2 separate regions of the Homo sapiens genome follow, and region 1 is linked to region 2. Evidence: fine-mapped expression QTL. Tissue or cell type: whole blood. Region 2 holds a variant in brackets; the other region holds the start of a gene. All regions are shown on one strand. Distances are between the middles of the regions.

The links. PIP is the estimated chance that this variant, and not a neighbour inherited with it, causes the effect.
Region 1: it holds the start of CLEC16A, and the variant in region 2 is fine-mapped to the expression of CLEC16A in whole blood (INTERVAL, PIP 0.94).

Annotation. Positions count from the first base shown.
Region 1 is chr16:10,943,424-10,945,923 of GRCh38, forward strand. CLEC16A (C-type lectin domain containing 16A) reads left to right here and starts at 1,141. Exons shown (of 24, transcript NM_015226.3): 1 at 1,141-1,374. The coding sequence starts at 1,295. RefSeq lists enhancers at 754-933, 1,154-1,213.
Region 2 is chr16:11,185,425-11,188,184 of GRCh38, forward strand. No RefSeq gene overlaps it. Among named protein-coding and RNA genes, the nearest start is that of SOCS1, 69 kb to the right of the region's middle. The variant T/A (reference allele first, on the strand shown) is at 1,126.

The DNA of each region.
Region 1 (2,500 bases), 240 kb before region 2:
CTATATGAATTACAGGACAAACCATTAACTCTCCACTCTTATCCATTTCTCCAACTGCTGAAGGTGAAACAAACCTTTACTCATTCATGCACTCTACCAATATTTGTTAAACACCTGCTATGTGCCAAACCTTGTGCTAGGCACTGGGGAGAACATTGGCCTCTGGCCCAGTTCTTTCTTGAGCAGAGTTAATGGGACACAGTGGACCTTTAATAAGGTTGATATGTAGAAGTGACTGAATGAATGAATGGATGGTAAACTTGAGAAGTCTTGCCCACACTGAACTTACCACTTCTAATCCAGGGTAGAAGTTAGATATATTCTGGCTCATGCAGAAAGTTGGGTGTTTCCTTTTTCATTTTAACGTGGTACTTTGGGAAATAGCATGGATTCTGGCTGAAGACCAGAGGAATCCTCTGGAAGTACAAAATGTTCAGTTTGGTGCATTGTTGCATCCAGCCTTTTCCAACACACACACACACACACACACACACACACACACACACACACACACACACACACACTTAATTGAAGTGGAAAAAGAAAAAGGCTGTCAGGACAAATAAGGTTGTTATCTAGTGCCGTTTTGGTTTATAAAGGGAATGAAAAATAAGGGTGCGTGCGTGGTTATGAACCCTGGTTTTGCCACTTGTTAACTGCATGATCTTGGGTAAGTCAACCTCTCAGTGACTCCGTTTCCCTGATGATAAAATAGGTTCGATAATAGTACCCAATTCATAGGATGGTTGTGAAAATTAAATACCTTAATATGTAAAGCCCTTAGGATAGTGGCTTTGCATAGTATACACCATCCAATACTATTCTTATTCTTATTATAAATCTAGTAATTGTTACTACAGTGGTGACTTTCCTTGACCCATCTACGCCGATTCCCTCTCCGGGACTGCGCCCAAAGCTTCCAATTCCCGCCCACCCGGAGGATTCTGCGGTCGCTCCTCCTCTCGCCCCGCCTTTTGTGGATGGCCGTAGGCCCGCGGTTGCACGATGCATGCCGGGCCTTGTAGTCCGTTCGCGGAGTCCTGCCGCCGAAGGCCACGCGGGTGAACTGCATTTCCCAGCGCCCCACGCGGCGGCGGCCGTAAAGCGCGGCGGTCGAACGGCCGGTTCCGGCTGAATGTCAGTGCTGGGCTGTGGGCCGGGGAGGAAGGCGGCTCGCGGTTCCTCCACCGCCTCCGCCGCCGCATCCTCCGCTTGTGCTACCGCCGCGGGCGCTGGGCCGCTCTGCTGGTCCGGCATGAGACCGTGAGACGAGAGACGGGTCGGGGCCGCCGACATGTTTGGCCGCTCGCGGAGCTGGGTGGGCGGGGGCCATGGCAAGACTTCCCGCAACATCCACTCCTTGGACCACCTCAAGTGAGTGTGGGGGGCGTAGCGGGAGGCCTCGGGGCTGGACAGGGGGACGGGGCGCCGAGCTCCGGGTCGGGGCTCTAGGAGGCGTGAGAGCGGCGGCGAAGGGCGCCCGGGGAAGCCCGTGTGGTGGTTAAGAGCGAGGGCTCGGGAGTCAGGGCGCCTGGGTTCGAACCCTGACCCCGTCGCTCTTGGCTGTGTGACCTTGGACAAGTCGCTTAATTTCTCAGAGTCTCCGTATCCCCACCTGTAAAGCGAGAGGATGCGATTTCAGTTTATGGACACAGACTTTGTTCTTGACGGTGTCCACCAAGTTTCCTGGCGGGGTACTTCTTAAACTGAACAGCTTAGAGGGTCAAAGGCCTGGGTCCTGGAGTCGGGCAGATCTGGGTCCGAATCTATCTGTGTGAATGTAGGCCTCAGGTTCCCCACTTGTAAAAAGAGTAGAGTGACAGCACCTGCTTCCTGCTATTGTGTTGAGAGTTGGTTGGATAAGAGAATGAACGTTAAGCTCAGAACACGTACAATTGCTCATTAAACGGCATTAATTATTATAAAAGAACAGATTATTTTCCGAGGGGAGTCTAAGCTGGGGGCATGCACGCTGAGACCCAGGATTTTGGGGCGATTGGGGAGGATGATGAAAAATAGAGACCTCTGAGGAGGGAATGACTCTACAGCTCTGGGGGAGGACAGGTGGCAGATAGGGTCTTGGGACCAGGAGTGCAGAAATTAAGAGGCTGGCTTTGCAGCCACACCTGCGTTCAAATCCTGAAACCACCATTTACTGGCTGTGTGACCTTGGGCAAATTACTTCACCTCTCTGAGCCTCCAGATTCCCATTTGCAAATGGGGATCGTGAACATTGTAATGGAAATGGAAGGTGACTGACCCAGTAGGTACATAGTAGGTGGCCAGTAGTGGTAGCTGTGTTTATTATCAGCTCAGCGAGGCCTTCCCAGACCACCCTACCTAACGTGCTCCCCCCATCCCAGTTCCTATCCATCACATCTTTCTCTTGCTTTCATTGAGTGCTTCTCCACTCTCTGCGATTATTCTTTATTTTTTATTTATACTTATTTTCTGTCTTCTGTTAAACTGGCACTTCACGAGGGCACAGACTGCTTGGTTT
Region 2 (2,760 bases):
TATTTTCACCTGTTCTGTGGGAGCTGGGTGCAGGCTCTGGCCCATGAGCTCTCTGTGCATGTATGTTGGATGGATGGATGGACTGATGGATGGAGTCATTCTTGGATACAGTTCCAGATTCTTAAAGCCTGAATTCCATTCAGTTCTCCATGCCCATGGCCCTAACTTTCAGCCTCTCCCTATGTGTGCTCACTCTGGTGTCTTCCAGGCCTTACCAGGGCCAGCCAAAGATCTTCAGGAGAATTTGCCCGGGCCAGGTTGCCAAGGGTAGGAGTGTTTGAGGGCTTTCCTCTGCCACCATCAGAAATTCTGTGTCCCCCAACCCTCCACAGGTATCTGAGCTGAGACCGAGCTGCTGCTGGTATCTCAGTGATGAGCGAGACCTCAAGCAGGGTGGAGTAGGTGGCAGTGCAGGCTTTGGAGTTGCTGACGAGGTTCAAGTCCCTGCACCAATGCTCCCCATCCCTGTGGCCTTGAGTACATGGTGAAACCGCATGAGGCTCAATTTCCTCATCTGTAAAATGGGAACCTTTCTGGCAGTGTCCTTGCTTGTGTAGATGAAGTGGGGGCAGGTAAATCAAGCACCTGTACCCAGCCTGGCACATGCAATTTCAGCCAGGGGGTCTCACCAGCGGCCCAGCCAGAAAAACAGGCTTCAGCCCAGGCCCAGGCCCCCTCAGTTACATGTACCCCCTGAGGTACAAAGCCAGCACCTGTGGGGTACAGCTGAGCCCTGGAATTTTTTAAGGTCCCCAGCTGATCCTCAGAGGCAGCTGTGATGATTCAGTTTATGTGTCAGCCTGACTGGGCTAAGGGGTGCCCAGATAGCGGCATGACATGATTTCCAAGTGTGACTGGGAGGGTGTTTCTGCAAGAAAGTAGAATTTGCAGTAGGGTGAGGTGGCTCATGCCTGTAATCCCAGCACTTTGGGAGGCTGTGGTGGGTGGATCACTTGAGGTCGGGAGTTCGAGACCAACCTGACCAACACGGTGAAATCCTGTCTCTACCGAAAATACAAAAATTAGCTGGGCGTGGTGGTGGGCACCTGTAGTCCCAGCTACTCAGGAGGCTGAGACATGAGAATCGCTTGAACCCAGGAGGCAGAGGTCTGCAGTGAGCCGAGA[T/A]TGGCCACTGCAGTGAGCCGAGATTGGCCACTGCACTCCAGCCTGGGTGACAGAGTGAGACCCTATCTCAAAAAAAAAAGTGGGGGCTGGGGGAGAGAGTAGCATTTGAAAGAGTAGACTGAGTGAAGAAGATCACCCTCACCACTGTGGGCGGCCACCATTCAATCCATTGAGGGCCCAAATAAAACAAGGAGGAAAAAGGTAAAATTTGCTTTCTGCTTGATCCCGTATGTCCATCTTCGCCTGCCCTTGGACATCAGAGGCCCTGGCTCTCGGGCCTTCCAGCTTGGACTGGAACGACACTGGCTTTCCTGGGCCTCCCAGCTTGCAGACGGCAGATTCTAGGACCCCTTGGCCTCCAGAATTGCATGAGCCAATTCCCATAATACAGACGGCCCCCAACTTATAAGGGTTCAACTGACAATTTTTCAACCTTATGACAGGTTTATCGAGGTACTAAAGTTGTTTTCAACTTAGGATGTGTTTATTGGGATGTAGCCTCATTGTAAATTGAGGGGCATCTGTAAATCTCATTTTTAATTTAATTTTATTTTAGAAACAGGGTCTCACTCTGTCACCGAGGCTGGAGTGCAGTGTTGCCATCAAAGCTCACTGCAGCCTCGAACTCCCAGGCTCAAGCGATCCTGCCGCCTCAGCCTCCGGAGCATCTGGGACTACGGGCGTGCGCCAGCACACTTGGTAATTTAGTTTTTTTTGTCTCACTATGTTGCCCAGGCTGATCTTGAACTCCTGGCCTAAAGTGATTATCCTGCCTCAGGCTCCCAAAGTGCTGGGATTACAGGCATGAACCGCAGTGCCCAGCCTATAAATCTATATATCTATACCTGCCTACCTATCTACCTACCTATCTGTATCTCCTGTTGGTTCTGTTTCTCTGAAGAATCCTGACTGATACAGCACCCAAAATAAGAAGCCAGCCTGGCCCACCTCTGCAGCCCACCCTGGCTACACCCCACCACTTGGAGCACACAAGCCCTCTGCCCTGTCCTGGAAGACCCCTCAACTGATTCCCCTCCCAGGACCTTGGCACCTGCCTTTCCTCCCTCCAGCCCCCTCCCCAACCTCTGCACCTGCACCCATCCTCTGTCGTTATCCTCCGTCCACAGAATCAGTGTTACTTCCAGGGACTATTCTGACGTCAGACCCCTGCTTTCCTCCATCAGCAGCTGCCACCCATTTCTTTCCTGGCGTTTGTCACACCTCAAAGGATTTTTGTTTCTTTGCCATGAGCAAAATCTCATGGCTTTCGTTTGGGGAACCCCTGACATCAGAGGCCTGAAAGGAGGACACAGTGCTGCTGGTTTATTTGGGTAGTGGCCCCAGGAAGCTGGAGTGGGAGCTGGGAGAGAAGGGCAGGAGGCCAGTAGACAGGGCACAGCTGGCCTGGTCACCGCCAGACACTGCTGGGGGCACTTGATACTCAGCCTCTCTGGAGCCCCTCTGCAGAGCTGCATAGATGAGCCTTGGGACTGGTCCTGGGAGGGGCAGGAGGTCAGGCATTTATCCCCCAACTCTCATGCCCTGTTGGCTGAGGACTGTCCCATGCCATGAAGGTCCTGCTTCCTCCCAGCTGCCTCGCCTGGAGCCGAGATGGCTCCTGAGTGAGCTCCTCAT